Homo sapiens: one gene and its partners. The protein of the gene in region 1 interacts with the protein of each later gene in a pairwise test. Each region holds a gene or a part of one and is shown on either strand. Other genes may lie near its edges.

Region 1 (3,970 bases):
CGGAGCCATCCTTTCGGTGGTAGTTGGGGAAGGCTATGCAGATTTGCTCTGTTGTGACGCGTTGGTGACGGTGCCCAGCCTGCGGTTCCCCACAGCATCGCAGGCGCTCGGAAATCCTCTCCCGTGCCTTTAGAGGAAGGAGAGGATTGCTGAGGAATGCAGGGACGCCTGTTTCTGTCCTCACACCACAGAAAGAAACCTGAGGGAAAACTGAGACGTGAGGTTCCTGATTTAAGAAGCCTGGGTTTCTTCATGGTGGGGGGCCATTTGGAATGACAGCCTCACTTCCTTCTGATGGCTACATCTGTATCTTTTCCTCCTGTGTTTAATGTTTCACTAGGGAGAGGAAATAAAGCAGAAGGAACGTGTGAAGCTCTGTGTCTCAGACGGGGCCCTCCCGTCGAGAAGCTGGTAGTCAGTGAGTGAGAACAAGAGAACAAGAACACCCTGAACAGTCCTGGTTGGGATGGTGTCCACATTCATGTTCTGCGGTTCTTGAACACACGGATGCCTCTGGGCCACCTGTCCTTTTCCGAGGGTGTGGGTGGGAGTGGATCCTCCGGGCGCAGGTGCCAGGCAGGTGCAGGCGGGCGGTCGGCCACTGCTGCTGCTCGTCCCTGCCAGTGTCTGGGCCTGAAGGGGCTCCCTCCAAGCGGTGCCTTCCTGCGGCTTAGAAGGGAAAGCGCCAGAGAGGGCAGGCTACAGTGCTTCACACCCTTCGCCACGGCTGTGAAACTGGAGATGGGTGGGTTTTGTATGTTAATTTTTTTTTTTGAGACGGAGTCTTGCTCTGTCACCCAGGCTGGAGAGCAGTGGCGTGATCTCGGCTCACTGCAAGCTCCGCCTCCCGGGTTCACGCCATTCTCCTGCCTCAGCCCCCCCGAGTAGCTGGGACTACAGGCGCCCGCCACCACGCCTGGCTAATTTTTTATATTTTTAGTAGAGACAGGGTTTCACCATGTTAACCAGGATGGTCTCGATCTCCTGACCTCACGATTTGCCCGCCTCGGCTTCCCAGAGTGCTGGGATTACAGGCGTGAGCCACCGCGCCTGGCCACCCAGCTAAGTTTGTATTTTTGTTGGAGACGGGGTTTCACCATATTGGCCAGACTGGTCTCAAACTCCTGGGGTCAAATGATCCGCCTGCGTCGGCTTCCCAGAGTGCTGGGATTACAGGTGTCAGCCACTGCGCTCAGCTGGGAGATGAATTTTCATTTAATGACTTAACTTTTTGTTAGCACAGGTTTTGTGTGTGTGTGTGTGTGTGTGTTTTGTTTTTTGTTTTGTGTTTTTGAAACGGAGTTTTGCTCTGTCACCCAGGCTGGAATGCAATGGCACCATCTTGGCTCACTGCAACCTCTGCTTCCTGGGTTCAAGTGATTCTCTTGCCTTAGCCTCCCGAGCAGCTGGGATTATAGGCGTCCACCACCACGCCCAGCTAATTTTTGTATTTTTAGTAGAAATGGGGTTTCACCATGTGTGGCCAGGCTGGTCTCGAACTCCTGACCTGAAGTGATCCACCCGCCTCGACCTCCCAAAGTGCTGGGATGACAGGCATGAGCCACCGCACCCGGCCAACACAGATGTTTATTGATCGTGGAGGATACATTGTGGAAAATGTTTTTCTCTCTTTTACCATTTTTGGGAAGAGGGATAGGTAAGTGCAGGGAGTTTGTGCTGAAACAGCGCCTGGCAATTTTTCAGAAATGAATTTGATATTGCGCTCCACCTTTGAGCTGTTCACACCTGTGGCTACCCCTGGAAAGCGCTGGGGTTGTTGATGCTTTTGGCTGCCCGGCTTCCTGAGGTCTCGCTGCTTTTTGGGGAAAGATGACTGGCTTCCCTGTGGGACGCTTTTGTCTGACACGTGATGATGTGGTCCTGCCTGCCACTGTGCACCATCCCAGGTATTGAATTTTGACCTTTTCTTTTCAAGTTTCTGTGCTTAGTGTTTTTAATGTTTACTTTTGCCACTTACAATAATATCACCAAAATAATATGCATAGAGTTTTGGAAGAAACATAGAAAACATGAGCAGAATGAGACAATTCCTTGGGCTGTAGTTTGGACCCAACTGAATCCTGAGTGCTCTGTGGCTGACGCTGTCTACCCGTGGGAGAGACACACTCAGGAGTGGCCGTTTGGCCAGAAAAGAAGGTCATGGCCCCTGGCCTGGCCCCCGCCCTGCAGGGACACAGAAGCCACACCATTTGCACCATCCACGCCTTGCTCCAGAAGGCCTGGCCGCCTTCTCCCTGGGGGTGATTCAAGGATTTGGTCTCGGACCAGACCCCCCTCCACAGCTGCCCGGCCCCAGACCCATCTCTTGGATTGAGGGTGTGTGGGCTGGAACCAGTGGGTCACTGTGGCAGCTTCATCTGAGCCGAAGGTGTGGGTCCTCTGTGGCTGTGCGATTGACCTCGATGGGAAGGAGCGTTCTACCCATTTTCCTTGTTTTCAGTGCTGCGGTATCAGTCAGTGATCTGAGGAAATCCTGTAGGGGAAGGCAGGCTGCAGTGAAAACAGGAGCTGGTGAAACCGAGCCCTCTGCATCTGCGAATGTGCCCTAGGTGCTGCTGCTGGGGACATGGATGCCAAGCGGAGGCCTGCGTGGCCTCCTGAGCAGCAGCTGACCGCCCGTCTCATGCTGGACGGGACCCCTGGGCGGGTGGACATGAGACCACTGTTGGCCAGGGACGCCGTGCGGAGGCCTACGTGGCTGCCTGAGCAGCAGCTGACCGCCCGTCTCACTGTTGGCCAGGGCTTTGTGGCGTGGGTGTTTTCCAGTCTGCCTGGAGCAGCGAGAAGCAGCTGTGCAGACTGGTGGCGGTGGGAGGGTTTGCTGGGACTGATGGGGACACCGGCCAGCTTGTCTGGTGTCCAGCAGCCCTGCCGGACTTGGCCTCCTGTCCTGTCGTTGGGAGCCCTGGCTGGGGCTGCTTTGAGCAATGACGCTGGCCCAGAGCAGCTTCCCACATGACCCCAGAGCCGAGGGTCTGCCCTGTCCTAGGTTAGGTCTTCATGGTTTAGAGTAAAACCGTGAGGGATGTTAATTATGGGCATTGAAGACTTAAGGTTTTCTTAAATTTTTAGTGAGCAGTGATTGGCCTTCAATACTTGTGCTGAGAGGAATTTTAAGCCAGGGGAAGTGTAAGAAAATGTTCCCATTCAGGAGAGATTGTGTTGGAGTTTCTTTCTTCCTCTGTATGTATTTTGTGGTGTCCACCTTTAACCACGTTTCATCCAAAACGATGATGCAGCTTTAACATGAATGTTACATTTTTATTTTCAAGGAATTATTATCTATGTTCCCTTTGTAAAGGAAAGATAATGTTGTAAATCTTTTTATTAGATAATGTAAAGATGTATATCAGTATTTTTGGATCATGTTATAGATTATGGATATATTGTTTAATAAATAAAGTATTTTTTGGAACAAACAATTGAAAGTGCATCTGTATTAGCCCGTTTTCACGCTGCTGATAAAGACATACCCGAGATTGGGTAATTTGTAAAGAAAAAGAGGTTTTTTTTAAAAAAAATTTTCTTTTCTCTTTTTTTGAGACGGAGTCTTGCTCTGTCACCCAGGCTGGAGTGCAATGGCACTGCATGATTTCGGCTCACTGTAACATCTGCCTCCCGGGTTCAGGTGATTCTCCTGCCTCAGCCTCCTGAGTAGCTGGGACTACAGGCACGTGCCACCACGCCCTGCTAATTTTTGTATTTTTAGTAGAGATGGGGTTTTGCCATGTTGGCCAAGCTGGTCTTGAACTCCTGACCTCAGGTGATCTGCCTGCCTCAGCCTCCCAAAGTGTTGGGATTACAGGCGTGAGCCACCGCACCTGACAGAAAAAGAGGTCTGGTGGACCCTCAGTTCCACATGGCTGGGGAGGCCTCACAATCATGGCGGGAGACGAAAGGCTTATCTTACATGGCAGCAGACAATAGAAAATGAGAGCCAAGTGAAAGG
Region 2 (7,952 bases), on another chromosome or scaffold:
ATTATATGCAGTCAGTCATTGACCAAAACATCATTATGCAGTGCGTGACTATATTTATTTGACATTTAGTCTGGGTCATTGACTCAAATGCCTATAAACACACATACACACATACATACCCCTCACACTCTAGCTTCTGCAGGTAGGGGAACCCTCAGCCTTTGTTCTCAGAAAAAAAGCCCCAGAGGTTACCATTGGGCATACTGATTTGCACACAGACCCATCTGGAAGAAAGTTTGAGATTGGAAGTGAGTCACTGATAGGGTGAGTAGATGAGCAGACTTTCCAAAGAGATGTCTTAAGGTTCTTACCTCACTTCTCTGCAGTATGAGATGGGTGGCCTCTCAACTCAGCCACTACTAAAAGGTGAGCCTTTGTGCCATCTCGGAGATGTCTCATAAGTTGCCAACCCATTTGTAGAAAATTAAGGAAAAGTGCATTTTTTTTACTCCCAAATAAACTCATAAATATTTTGCTTTTTATATTATTCAAGAAACTTTGCAACATTTCCCCTCATCATGTATAATCTAGGGTCTCCAAAAGGCTGTAGACTTTTCCCCCCAAGATCCCTGCATTTTTTTGTGACAGGCTGGGCCTTAGATGTTCCAGGCTCTTCACCGGACTGTCTTCTTGGGAGGTCAGGCCAACAGGGGTCTTTAACTAAGATGAAGGATGGGTTGATGGAACTGGTCACTCACAGGTCAGGTCTGAAGCCCAATTCACACTCAACTAATCACAAGTGGCTGACGTTGAGGAGCAGAGAGGGGTGCAGCTGGCACTTCCTGATCTGAGGATGGCTCTTAGAACCAGGGAACTATCCAGTCTCTTAGGATGATTCAGTGGACCTGAGAGCTTTGATAATACGTTTCAATTTGGCCTATCACTGACATTTGGGTGATTCTGCAAGTTCTGAGCCAGAAGAAAAATAAAGAATGGTTGTCAAAGTTGGAATTTAAAATGGTGGGCCATTTCAACTTGGCATACTTGTCCATAATGCATATAGTAAAAAAAAAAAAAAAAGAAAAAAAGAAAAAAGTTATTTTAATACCTGGATAGTGTATTCTTTCCAGAGCAGCTTGCCATTCTCCAAACCAGTGACTTGCGTTAGCCTCCAATGCTTGCAAAACATTGATTTAAAATGACGTTTTTCATGTTAACACAGTATCAGTGTGGAAGGAGTAAACTTATAGGCCGTTTTTATAATTTGAGATTATCTTATTTAAGTAAGAAACTTATAATTATCTCATTTATCCTAGGAGAAAAAATAGCTTCCCCCCGCCCCACCCTTGTCTGGTTATTATGATAAATTATTTTGCTTTAAATAAGAAAAATGAACGTTTATAGAAAATATCTAAAAGGAGATAGGGCCAGGCACGGTGGCTCACGCCTGTAATCCCAGCACTTTGGGAGGCCAAGGCGGGCGAATCACGAGGTCAGGAGGTCGAGACCATCCTGGCTAACATGGTGGAACCCCGTCTCTACTAAAAATACAAAAAATTAGCTGGGCATGGTGGCGGGTGCCTGTAGTCCCAGCTACTCAGGAGGCTGAGGCAGGAGAATGGGGTGTACCCAGGAGGCGGAGCTTCCTGGGTAGTGAGCCAATATCGTGCCACTGCACTCCAGCCTGGGCAGCAGAGTGAGACTCCGTCTCAAAAAAAAAAAAAAAAAAAAAAAGATATAAAAGGAGATGAATCTTTGGGAGGCCAAGGCAGGTGGATCACTTGAGGTCTGGAGTTCCAGACCAGCCTGACCAATATGACGAAACCCCGTCTCTACTAAAAATACAAAAATTAGCCGGGTGTGGTGGCATGCGCCTGTAATCCCAGCTGCAGTGAGCCAAGATCGCGCCATTGCACTCCAGCTTCCAGCCTGGGAAATTAGAGCAAAACTCGGTCACAAAAAAAAAGGAGATAAATAATGCTCCAGGAAAAAGCAAATAGAATTACTAAAGGGAAGAAGAGGCAGGAAAAGAAAGAAATTTGGAAACAGACTAAAAGATTCACTTGTCCTCAAGTGAAAGATCTTTCATCAAGAAAAATGAAGAATTATCAGAATTTAGTTATATAAAACACACAGGGTTAAGGGAAATGCTCATGTTTACCAATCCTAGAACATTAGAAATACTTTAAAAGAAATACTGTTGTTCATATTTATGCATATTTGAGGGTCTCAGAACCCCGAAATGACCTTGGCAGTAAATACAATTTAAACAGGAAACCAAAGATGGCAAATACATAATATGTATTTCACTATTTCCATTTATATACCCATAGCAGACATTATCAAGTGATCAGGCGGCTATTTCCAACTAGATGGATGCACTCTGAGATCCTTTTCAGTAGATGGCCCTTAAGATGAAATCCTCCTGCTGTCTGTGCTACTCAAAGCGTGATCTTTAGAACACCAGCATGTGCATGACATGAGAACTTACTCGGAAAGCAGAATCTCAGCCCCATTCTAGACCAACTGAATCTGAATCTGTATTTTAGCAAGATCCCCAGTGATTCTTAGGCATATTAAGGTTTAAGAAGTTCTGGAGATGCACTGAATGCATGATATATTCATTAGGGCAGAATATCTCAAGTTTTAGTATGCATCATAATCACTAGGTTGAACACTGTTGAAACACAGATTGCTGGGCCCCATCCCCAGGGCTTTTGATTCAATAGGTCTGGGTGGAGCTTTCAAACAAGTTTCCAGGTAATGCTTCTGCAGCTCCAGGGACCACACTTTGAGAACCACTGCATTAGGGCCATGGGAATACTTTGGAATATCTCCCTGATCTTTAGAAGCTGAAGATTGTGATATCTTTCCACAAATCTTGGTACACTGGTCAGAACTAGAATTCAGGGCAGGCAAAAGAGTCCCAAGGTTTATAGCATAATATTTCGTATGTCCTTATGTTCCTAAATCTAAAAGACAATCTCTCCTTCTTCTAGCATCATTCAATCATTCATTCAGTATAAATGTTGGGTAGCTATTCTGTCCACAGCTTTATGCTCCATACTGAGAAGATCTAAAGAAAGTTAAAACACAGCTCCTAATTCCAAGATGTTTATTCTCTAAGATGAAAATGAATGCATGAAACAATAAATAACAGGTTAAATAATGGGAGACAATAGTACGGGAGGTGGCATCAGATGGCAAAGGGCAAAGTGTTAAGTAAGTAGCATGAATGATGTGTGACTTGATTTCAGAGAGAGGGAGGATAACTGAAACAGACATAGACAGGGCCGTGCATTTCAGCCTAACTAGAGTAGAAAGTTGCTACCTAGAATGGCTAAGAAGGTGCCTTCTCATTTCTTAATGCTTCAGAGGTTAAGACTTTGATGTTTCCTCTGGTCTGAGATCTTTGTCACTTTGGGCCACTATAACAAAAATACCATAAACAGGATGGCTTAAACAACAAACATTTATTTCTTACAGTACTAGAGGCTGGAAGTCTGAGACTAGGATGCCAACACGGTATCAGATTCTTGGTAAGGGCCCTCTTCCTGGTCCACAGAAGACTGCCTTCTGTGTCCTCACAAGGCAGTAAGAAAGCATCTCTCTCCTGTCTCTTCTAATAAGAGTGCTAATCCTATCATGAGGGCTCCACTGTCTTGACCTTATTACCTCCTAAAGTTCCCCACCTCCTAATACCATCACACTGGGGATTACGGGTTTAACATGAATTCCAGGGGGACAGAGTTAATAGCATCTGAGTTATTCTAAATCAATGCTATCAGCACTGAAGATCAGGCTATAGGGTGGGCACAAAGTGTCCTGGAAACAAAGAAGAAAGACAAATAGTTTATAAACAGAGATGACTTTGGGGGAAAGCAGCAGTAATTTAACAACAGGGAAAATAAAGCCCAGCTTTTATTGGTCTCTTACATTGCCAGGTACTTGTGCTAAATGACTGCCATGCACCAACCATCTCATTTAATCCAAACAACAGCTCATTAGGTAAATGTCGTCAAGCCTCCACCTTACTACATGTGAAAACAGAAGCTTTATAAGCATGCATGTAAGCTTAAATAACTTGCCCACTTCTAATCCAAGCAGTTCTACAGGGTGGGAGGCTCCTCATTCATAAATCGCGAAGGCTGGCCTGCCTGATCATCTCTCAGTTTCCTTCTTATTCTCATCCACTTTCAGTCAGCGAGGAAACCACAGAGCAACCCAAACAGCGAATTCGAGTCGAGGAACCTGTTGGGGCCAGTGCGTCCCAGGCGCGGACAGGGAGGGGCTCCATGAAACGCAGCAAGGTTTGGCCAGAGCCTGCCGGGGTCATGGAGCCTCTCCCGGCTTCTTCAGGCCACTCTAATTACAGAGTCTGTGGTAGGTTGCGTGGAGGAGCTGTCTCGGGGCGGGAAGCTTCCCTGCGTATTGTATTTGCCTATAAATACTTCAAATAGTTAAGTGAAATGTGCAGCCTTTGAAAACTGGAGAGGAAGCCGTTGGGAGGCCCCCCGCCCAGCCGGCCTGGAAGAGCAGGCAGAGAAATGGCTGGCGCGCTCTTAAAGCGGGAGACGAGCTTCGGCCCTGCCCAAGCCAGATGGGGGCAGCGAGGCTGCGGGCGTGACTCCGGAAGACTCAAACCGTTAAGGTGACCGGAGCAATTTGAAAAAGGAAACAAACTTCCCTCGAGCCGTGCCCGCGTGGCTCTGGGGCGGACGGTTGCGTTCGAAAGGGCATTTTTCAAAAGAAGGGTTTCAGGAACGCAGGGGTGTGGGCCCCCCGGGAGGCGCGCGGCCGGGGCAGTGCCGCAAAGCGGCCACCAGCCCGCTTTGTACTCGCGGCCAAGCGCGGCCCCAGAGTTTCGGCGGCGGCCAGAGTTTAGGCCACACCCTCTTTGCAGTGAGACCCGCGGCCGCTGATTGGCGCACCGTGGACCAATGGGCGCGCCGGGGCGGCCCCGGCTGTCAGCGCGCGCCGCAGCAGCGCCGGCAGCAGCCTGTCCTCCCCTGCGCTGAGCCCCGCAGCCAGCGCAGCCTTCCCGGGAAGCGCGGCGGCCGCTCCCGAGCGCAGCCCTGCCCGGCCCGCCAGCCGCGCGTCCCGGCGCCCGCGCCCCACGGCCACAGCCTTGCCTCTATCTAGCTCACGGAGCATGTGCAGACCCGCAGGCGCTAAGGTGCTCTCAGTCCGGGGGCCTTCTGGGCAGCGGTGACTGTCACCCCAAGAGAGACCTTTCGGGGGCTCTTGCCGCACCTCTGCTGCGTCGCGGGTGACACTGCGGTGCTCGCGAGCAGGGTGGCAGCTGCCTCTCGGTGGAGACGTCTTGGGACCCTTGCGCCCTTCTTCTCTCCTTCCTTCGCTGCTGTCTCCTTTCCTTCCTTGGCTGCTCGCTCTTTCTCTCGCCGGCTCAGACCCGTAGCCTCCGGAACGGGACTCGTGGGTCGCCGCCGCCTCTGTCTCTTCCAAAGGGGCCTCCTCACTTCGGAGATGCAGTGACAAGTTAATATGGGCGTCCAAGCCTCTGTTTCCCAGGAGGAAATTTGCAAGAGGCGGCAGCCCCTGAGCGCCCAGAGCTCTTGAAAGGCCACCCAGGAGAGGTGTGAGACCCGGCGGCAGCATCCGTCCAGGTGGGACCCGCTGAGCGCCGTGGCCAGTCCCCCATTCCCATCCCGGCACCCCAAAGGCGCGCTCGCCCGATTGCTTCGAGTTCCCCGACCTGGGGATTTTTTTTTTAGCCGCTGGTGGTGGGCGCCTCGTGGGCTAAGGCCCGGCGCCTGCTCTGCTACCCGCGCTGCCTTTAGCGGTCGCCCCCGCCGCCGCTGCCAGGGACGTGCTGGGAAAGCCCAAGCCCCGGGAGAAGATGCCGGCCATCCTGGTCGCCTCCAAAATGAAGTCGGGACTGCCCAAACCCGTGCACAGCGCCGCGCCCATCCTGCACGTGCCCCCGGCCCGGGCGGGCCCCCAGCCCTGCTACCTGAAGTTGGGAAGCAAGGTGGAGGTGAGCAAGACCACCTATCCTAGCCAGATCCCCCTGAAATCGCAGGTGCTGCAGGGGCTGCAGGAGCCAGCGGGGGAGGGGCTCCCGCTGCGGAAGAGCGGCTCGGTGGAAAACGGGTTCGATACCCAGGTGAGAGATGCCGTTTGCCGGGGTACTGTTCTGGAAGGATGGATGAATAGTTCTTTCGGGATGGTGTGGGAGAAAGGGCTGGATGGGAGAAGGGTCTACCATGTGGCCAGGGAAGGGAACCATTCCCCTTAGGCCGGCAGGTTGGGGGATGCGCGAGGAGAGTGGGCCGGCCGGTGGGTGTGGCCCGGGTGCCGGAGGTTTGCCTTAAGAGCTCTTCGAGACCTGGGATGGCGGGCACGTCTGCAGCATCTTCCTGGGGAGGAGGAAAGGTCGGGATGTTCTCAAAAAACGTGTGCATCGCTGGAAATGTGAGGTCCTGCATGTTGAGGTCTTGGCCCCAAGAAGCCAGTATCCGCAGCAGCAGCTGTGTGTCTGTCTGGCGGTTCCGCAGAGATTCTGTTCCGGACAAGGAATGATCTAAGGCCCCATTGGGTTCGACGCCCCCTAGCCTGGCTGTAAGATCCAGGAAGAAAAGGGGATCGCGGGTGGCAGTGAACCTGCTCTTCCCTTGGCTTGAAGATGACCTGTCCCTGCCCCATCCTGCGGGGTGACGGGATTCCGGGCAAGGTGCTGGGACTGCGGTACTAGTGCACCAGCTGAGGCCGGCAGCTGGAGACTCCTAGCGCCTTGGCTGGCTGTTGCGGTGGGGGTGGGGGTGGAGGTGGCTGCCTCAGAATGGCGGCCGAAGCTAAGCCCCTCCTTCCTGGGTGGTAGATCCTGGTGTTGGTAGCCCGAGTGACGGGGCGTGGGGATGGGAGATGGCTTGAAGAGAATTGGTGACTCCTACCTTTCCAGACAGAGCCTGCATCCAGACAAGCCCTGGCCGTGCAATCTCTTTTACAGAAATTAGCAAGGGCCAATCAGGTTCTCTTGGTCCTCCCCGCTCCATTTCCCCCTTCTTCTGGTAGGAGGGGGCTATATTTTCTTGGCAGTCAGTCAGCAGGGACTTTTGGGGACAGGCCGACCTGACGGATGTGACTGTCCGGTTAGGAGAGGCGGGAAGCCAGAGGGGAGGTGGTTTGGGGCTGGTGTCAGGAAAATGGCAACAGACCAGCTGACCTTTTTGGCACATACTTCCCTGCTGACACCATCTCCACCTTCTCCTGGAGCTTTCTCTGATCAGAGGCTAGAGCTCAACACGTTCCTAGGCTTTCTGATGCGGGAACTGGAGCTGAAGCTAATTGTAAGCAGACTTTTGGAACTCTGGGCTGGAGAAGGCCCTCAAAGCAGATTAAGCTCCCACACCAGGCTGATAAGCATGCCCCTTGCTGCTGCACTTGCTAAACATTTTTGGAAGCTGACAGGTTTGAGTGATGGTGTGTGGGAGGAAGGCAAGATTTCCTCCAGTGCTCCGGGGGCCTGCCTCTGTGAGGGTTTTGTGCTCTGCTCTTCTTCTGTTGTTACGTACAGGATTTGTCCAGTGGGCTCTGCCATGGGGGTGAGCACCAGGGTACACTTCTGCATGGGGTTTCCCTTCATCCATGGACTTGGGGTTTATGAGGTGTAGTGGGCAGTCGGTGGGAGGTCAGTACAGTGACTCGGGACTGGAGGTGACACATACCCTCGAGCCTGATGAGGAGCACCCGAGGAATGAGAGGGAAAGTCCATGCTGGGATTGTTCATATCCAGGCAGCTGTTCTGCCTTTGCCCGTTTGACCCTTCATTTAACAAACATTGTCAGAGGACTGGCAGTGCATAGGCTCTGGAAAGGTGATTCATCACCCTGTCCGTGAAAAAAAATGTTCTTCAGCTTCTCTCTGAGGGGCTGGAACAGTCCACTTCCCTCAAGACTTTGCTTCCCTCTTTTGCCCTTGGTCCATAATCCCCCCATTTCACCTCTCTCGCCCTCAATGGGCCCTTGTGTACTGATGGTGAACATAGTTTG
Region 3 (6,975 bases), on another chromosome or scaffold:
ATGGCTCGCAGGAGGATTGGGAGCTGGGATGCTGCTTGGCTAACGTCCTCTCCTGCAGGGAGGGGGTGAGGTCTACAAGGGGTACCCAGGGCATTCTCTGGAATGCTACCTCCCTTCCCGTGAATACTACCTCCCTCCCACTTAATGTACTAGGTGGCATTATTAATAGTATTATTAATCCATACATTCATTCAACATTTTTTTTGTTGATTGTCTACCGTTTACAGGTTGGTTTGGCTACTGGAGATACAGAAATGACTGTGATGTCACCCTAGTCCACAAGGAATCCATGGTCGAGTGGGGACACTGGGGTGGCCAGCAGGCAGTGACAGAGCAATCTCATACAAGTTTATATTACAACCAGGTGCAGTGGCTTGTCCTTGTAATCCCAGCTACTTGGGAGACTGATGCACCTCCTCGGGAGGTGGGAGAATCACTTGAGACCAGGAGTTAGAGACCAGCCTGGGAAACATAGTGAGACGGTCTCAAAAAAAAAAAAAAAAAATTAGTCGGGCTTGGTGACCCGCACCAGCAGTCTTAGCTACTCAAGAGGCTGAGGAGGGAGGATCGTTGGAGCTCAGGAGCTTGAGGTTGCAGTGAGCTGTAATCATGCCACTGCACTCTAGCCTGGGTATATTACATATAATATGTATGTATAAAAATGTGTATATTTATTTATGTTTATTTATTTATGTTTATTTTTTGAGATAGAGTCTCACTATTTCACCCAGGCTTGAGTACAGTGGCACAATCACGGCTCACTGCAGTCTTGAACTCCCAGGCTCAAGTGACCCTCCCACCTCAGCCTCCTAAGTAGCTGGAACTACAGGCATGTGCCACCATGCCCGGCTAACTTTTAAAAATGTTTTGTAGAGATGGTGTCCCCTATGTCGCCCAGGCTGGTTTGAAACTCCAGGTTTCAAGCAATCCTCCCACCTCAGCCTCCAAAAGTGCTGAGATTACAGGCATGAGCCACCATGCCCGGTGATTTTTTTTTTTTTTTTTTTTTTTGAGATGGAGTCTCACTGTGTCGTCCAGACTGGAGTGCAGTGGCGGGATCCCTGCTCACTGCAACCTCTGCCTTCCGGGTTAGCGCAGTTCTCCTGTCTCAGCCTCCCGAGTAGCTGGGATTACAGGTGCCCGCCACCATGCCTGGCTAATTTTTTTGTATTTTTAGTAGAGATGGGGTTTCGCCCATTGGCCAGGCTGGTCTGGAACTCCTGACCTCAAGTCATCTGCCTGCCTCGGCCTCCCAAAGTGCTGGGATTACAGACGTGAGACACCGTGCCCAGCCCCCCGCCTTTTTTTTTTTTAAGAGATTGGGCCTCCCCATGTTGCTCAGGCTGCTCTCAAACTCCTGAGCTCAGGTAATCCTCCCACCTCAGTCTCCCAAAGTGCTGGGATTACAGGCATGAGCCACCACGTCTGCCACCCCTGACCCCCAAATTTTGTTTACAGTTAATATTGCAAAGGCCTCCTCTCTCTACATGCTTTCTTGTCTTTCCAATCCATGCTCCACATTTTTGGAGATGGAGTCTCGCTCTATCCTCCAGGGTGGAGTGCAGTGTTGCAATCTTGGCTCATGGCAACCTCTGCCTTCCAGGTTCATGCAATTCTCATGCCTCAGCCTCCTGAGTAGCTGGGATTACAGGCATGCACCACCACGCCCGGATAATTTTTGTATTTTTAGTAGAGATGAGGTTTCCACATGTCTGCCAGGCTGGTCTGGAACTCCTGACCTCAGGTGATCTGCCTGCCTCAACCTCTCAAAGTGCTGGTATTACAGGCTTGAGCCACTTTGCGCTTGGCCACTATTTTTTTTTTTTTTTTTTGAGATGGCGTCGCGCTCTGTCGCCCAGGCTGGAGTGCAGTGGTGCAATCTTGGCTCACTGTAACCTCTACCTCCTGGGTTTAAGTGATTCTCCTGCCTCAGCCTCCTGAGTAGCTGGGACTATAGTCGCCGGCTGCCACGCCCAGCTAATTTTTGTACTTTTAGTAGAGACGGGGTTTCACCACGTTGGCCAGGCTGGTCTCAAATTCTTGACCTCAAGTGATCAACCTGCCTCGGCCTCCCAAAGTGCTGGGATTACAGGTGTGAGCCACAGCGCCCAGCCTAGAGTGAAATACTGAAAACCCTCTCATGGTTTTCCAGGCTTCTGAGGGATGAAGTCCAACACCTTAGGCTGGCCTATCAGACGCTGCATAGTCTGGTCCTGCTGACTTTGGCAGGATTTCTCTCATCGCTGGCCCTGTAACACTTCAAGGGACTGCAGTGATGATGCTTCATAGAATATGCAGTATTCTCTTGTACCTGCATGTGGTACCTGTGTACCTACTGCAGTCTGTTTAGAATTCCCTTTGCTGCTTGTTTGGCGAACTTCCACTCACCTTTCATGGCTCAGTTCCAATACCATCACCTCTGGGAACCATCTCCTGCCTGCCCCAGGAGGACCGGGACCTCCTTTTCCTGTCCTCTTTTCCTTGAACCTGTATATACTTTTTTTTTTTTTTTTTTTTTTTTGAGACAAGAGTCTCACTCTGTCACCCAGGCTGAAGTGTAGTGGTGATTTTGGCTCACTGCAACCTCCGCCTTCCAGGTTCAAGGAATTCTCCCTGCCTCCTCCTCCCTAGTAGCTGGGATTACAGGCACACACCACCATGCCCGGTTAATTTTTGTATTTTTAGTAGAGACGGGGTTTCGCTATGTTGGGCAGTCTGGTCTTGAACTTCTGACCTTAGGTGATCCGCCTGCCTCAGCCTCCCAAAGTGCTGGGACTACAGGCGTGAGCCACCGCAGTCTTAAATGGTTAATGAGGATTAGGAAATCTATCAATTATTCAACAGAGAGACAATGAATGGATCAAGGGATTGGGGAGCTCCCTGACATTACAGAACAAATTCAGTATGCAGTATACTGTGAAAGCGAGGCGGAAAAGCAGGTTTTGTTTGCGAGTCTGACTTTAGGATTGCAGGTGAAACACTTGTGTGACCCTGGAGCTGTGTGGCTAAGGTGCTGCGGGGTCACTGGAGAAAGGTCAAGGGACTGTGGCCCAGTTGGCCCGGAGGTGGTTCAGGTCTCCCAGATTCCAGGGCGGCATTATGAGCCACGTGACAGACCTCCCCTGACTGGCTGACAGTGAAGCATAATTGAGAAGATGGCGGACCAGCAAGGACCTCATCAGAATAGGTCTGTACACAGAGCGGCATAGAGAGTGCAGGAGGGTAGTAGACCGGGCGCGGAGGCTCAAGCCTGTAATACAAGCACTTTGGAAGGCCGAGGCGGGTGGATCATGAGGTCAGGAGATGGAGACTATCCTGCCCAACACGGTGAAACCCCGTCTCTACTAAAAATACAAAAAAAAATTAGCCGGGCGTTGTGGCGGGCGCCAGTAGTCCCAGTTACTCGGGAGGCTCAGGCAGGAGAATGGCGTGAACCCGGGAGGCGGAGGTTGCGGTGAGCCGAGATCGCGCCACTGCACTCCAGCCTGGGCAACAGAGCAAGAATCTGTCTCAAAAAAAAAAAAAAAAAAAAAAAAAAAAAAAAAAAAAAAAGTGCAGGAAGGTAGTGAACAGAACAGCAAGGGGAATGCCGACCCTTTCTCCTGTTGGGGCCAAGACAGAGGCGATGTGGGCAGGGGAGAGGCCGGGGAATGCGCAGAAGCCGACTCCATCTCCGCATTAATAGTGGACTAGGGGCAGGGCTGGATTTTCGGAGGCAGTGTGCAGCTCCCAATAACTAGTTCCATGGGTCCTCTGTGAGCCTAGTTTCCTGGTGGGTACCGAGGGGAGGGCGTCGGAACCGTACGCTCCTTTGAGTGAGGGGAATCCGGGAGGATCCAAGGCAGGGGAAACAGGGCCGAGCGGGAAAGGCCTTGAATGGGGGGCGAGACCCGGCCAGGCCCGCTGGACGCGTAGCACGTCTCCTTGGTGACGGGACGCGTGGCCCGGAAGTGGGCGGCCCTTCTGGCGGGGCGGGGCATCTCTGTGACGCTAGGGGCTGGGCCTCGATGGCGAAACCCAAGCGGCTCCCGGGGGGGTTTGAACTGGCCAATGGGCGAGCTGCCGACCGGGTGTCGGAAAAGGAGGCGGAAGCGGGGAGGAGCCGCTGCCAGAGCCAGACTGCATCCGCCGCGGCGTCTCCATGGCACGACCCTGGCCTCCGACTTCAACGACTTCATAAGGCGGCGTTTCTGGGCGCAGCCGTGTCGCTCCTGGTGAGAGGCCGCCGGCAGGCGGGATCCAGCGCCCTCCGGGGCACCGCGGGCGAGACCGTCGCCTTCGCACCCCCGGCGCGGTCGACCCCGCGGGGCCGTCGGGTCCTGGGTTCCCCGCCGCGTTGCGCTCGTCCCCCTCCTGTCAGAACCTGGGCCCCCGCCCCGCCCACCGGCGCGGGGCCTCTCCTCCTCCCGCTAACGGGCGGTCGGCCGCCTCCTTCCTCTCTTGGCTACCACGGGGCTCTGCCCCTCCTCTGCCGCCCGCGGGCAGGGCTTCACCTTTCTCTCTATGGGCAGAAACCGGTACCCTCCTGCCTGCTGGTGGGTGGCCGTCCCTTCTCTCCGCCGACAGAGGCTCTCCCTCGCTCTGCTGCCCGTCGGCGGCATCGCCCCGACCGCCTCGTCCTCTCCTCGGGCCTCCACATGGCAGTCACTTGTACGCCCTCCGTAGGCAGCGCTGTCCCCCGGGCACCGTCTCCGGCTTGCCAGGGCCCTCGCCCGGCGGGGGGGGGTCCCGCCCGCCCCCTCCCAGCCCGGCGTCTATCCTGCTCAGAACTCTGTTCGGTTTTCCCTCGCGGCGGGGCGCCCGGGGCCCGTGCAACCTCCGCGCCTCCCTCCTTTAAACACTATTGGTCCTCTCGGGCATCTGTTCTTCCGTAACGCCCCTTCTCCTAGGAGACAGTTGTCCGGCCCCGCCCCAGCATCCCCGCGGCTCCCTGCGCGGTTCTGGCCCTCTGGGGCCCACTTGGGGCCGAGCGGTTCTCACCCGCCCTCTCCGCACGTCCGCCGGCGCCTCAGGTTTCCCCCGGTAGCCACCGGCAGTCCTCCGCGTGGGACCCGGGCGCGGTGGTCCTTTCCCTCGCGGTTCTGCCCCGTCCCCTCCCCTTCCTCCCCTCTGCCCCCAGGTCGCTCAGCCTCTACTATTTCCCCCTACTTTGGCAGGACAGTTGCTGTGCGACTTGGACAGTAGAGGAGCGCCTCCCAAGTTTTCATCCAACTGCCAACCCCAAAGCTTCCACCCTTCTCCCCTCAGAGAGGACGTTTGATGCCGGGCCCCTTGAGAGGCTCATTGACAAGCCTGCCCCTCTGGGTCCCCCTGAGCAGAGCCTGCTGACCCAATTGCCCACCTTTGCGGCTTTGATGCCTAGCCATGTCTGCCTCATCCTCAGGCGGCTCCCCCAGGTATTGCCGATGTGGGAGGCGCCTGCGCCGGAGGGCAGGGAAAGGTGGCCAGGGGTCCCCAGGGCAGGCTCGCCTGAGGCTTCCAGCTTCCTCATTGTGTTTGCTGAAAGTCTGGACCAAAACGTTTAAAAATCGTTTTTAAAGGGAAGGGGGAACGAAATGTATACACAATCCTAGCTCTACCTCCCTCGCTCCTTCCCTCCCCAGATGTCACAGCTTCCTGGAAGCAAACAGGGTCACTCTTGTTGTCTTTATATAATAGAGTACTAGGTTCAGAGCCTTTTTGAAGGGAGTCGAGGTGTAAATAAATAACACGTAGGAGGTGGATGTGGCAGTTAGCAAGATAATGGAATCCAGGTGGTTTGACAAGAAACCCACTGAGAGATTTCCCAAAGCTATTGGCTTTACGTGAACAATGTTCTAAATGATTAGGGAAAAAAGCCTGTCTTCTCAGTTTTGGTATTCCTTGGCTAAAGGATCAGTAGAGGTCTATATATATATATATATTTTTTTTTTTTCCCCTCTTTTTAAAATCACGATGTAATACATATACAGCAAAACGCATACCAAAGTGCTCAAGTATTTTTTTCCTTGCATTTTGATGTTGCATTATTTTCCCCAAGTGTTTGTAAAGAGGGCAAGATGATAATTTTGGACCTCCCTGTCTCTGCCCCACCCTCCCTGCCACCCCCTGGTCGCTCCAGCCTCTCTGATCTCCCCCCACTTTGGGGGGCCAGGTGCGGTGGCTCATGCCTGTGCAATCCTAGCACTTTGAGAGGCCAAGGTGGGTGGATCACCTGAGGTCAGGAGTTTGAGACCAGCCTGACCAACATGGTGAAACCCCGTCTTTACTAGAAACATAAAAAATTAGCTGGGCATGGTGGCACACGCCTGTAATCCCAGCTACTCAGGAGCCTGGGGCAGGAGAATTGGAGAATTGCTTGAAGCCAGGAGGCAGAGGTTGCAGTAAGCCAAGATTGGGCCACTGCACTCCAGCCTGGGCGACAGAGCGAGACTCTATCTCAAAAAAAAAAAAAAAAAAAAGGCCAGGAGATGGATCAGATGGTTATTCCAAGGCCCTTCCCATCCTGGACTTTTTGGATATACTGCTGAAAGATTTTGGAGCAAATAGACTTTTGCTCTCTCTCTTTTTTTTTTTTTTATTTGGCTGTCTTTGCAGATCTGGTGATGGAGCTGTACAGTATATGTGTAAGCAAGGTGAATTAGACATGGCATTAAAAAAAAATCCCCTGCTGCTTGAGAGCTTAAAGGATAGCAAGTGGAATATTTTGGGAACTAGATACTTTTTTATTCTCTTAGGGGAATATTTGAGCCTTAATTTGATGAGTGTGCGTCACAGTGACCTCTCGTGCCTGAGCCTAATGCTCTTTGAAAAAATTTTTTTTTCTTTTTTGTTGTTGTTTTGAAACGGGGTCTCCCTCTGCCACCTAGGCTGGAGTGCAGTGGCGTGGTTACGGCTCACTGCAGCCTCCACCTCCCAGGCTTAATTGATTCTCCCACCTCAGCCTCCCGAGTAGCTGGGACTACAGACACACGCCACCACGCCAAGCTAATTTTT

Evidence for each region.
Region 2: the proteins of ING5 (region 1) and NAV2 interact in binary tests that used the Homo sapiens proteins (3 or more experiments, as listed by UniProt).
Region 3: the proteins of ING5 (region 1) and ODF2 interact in binary tests that used the Homo sapiens proteins (3 or more experiments, as listed by UniProt).

What each region holds. Positions count from the first base shown.
Region 1 is NC_000002.12:241,726,039-241,730,008, forward strand, and holds the end of ING5 (inhibitor of growth protein 5), read left to right. Parts: 3' UTR 1-3,440; downstream 3,441-3,970. UniProt on the Homo sapiens protein: Component of the HBO1 complex, which specifically mediates acetylation of histone H3 at 'Lys-14' (H3K14ac) and, to a lower extent, acetylation of histone H4. Component of the MOZ/MORF complex which has a histone H3 acetyltransferase activity.
Region 2 is NC_000011.10:19,707,896-19,715,847, forward strand, and holds the start of NAV2 (neuron navigator 2), read left to right. Parts: upstream 1-4,941; 5' UTR 4,942-5,800; coding exon 5,801-6,067; exon of another isoform or gene 6,068-6,777; intron 6,778-7,952. UniProt on the Homo sapiens protein: Possesses 3' to 5' helicase activity and exonuclease activity. Involved in neuronal development, specifically in the development of different sensory organs.
Region 3 is NC_000009.12:128,452,042-128,459,016, forward strand, and holds the start of ODF2 (outer dense fiber protein 2), read left to right. Parts: upstream 1-3,964; 5' UTR 3,965-4,050; coding exon 4,051-4,214; intron 4,215-4,390; exon of another isoform or gene 4,391-4,503; coding exon of another isoform or gene 4,504-4,535; intron 4,536-4,894; exon of another isoform or gene 4,895-5,022; intron 5,023-5,156; exon of another isoform or gene 5,157-5,364; coding exon of another isoform or gene 5,365-5,396; intron 5,397-6,975. UniProt on the Homo sapiens protein: Seems to be a major component of sperm tail outer dense fibers (ODF).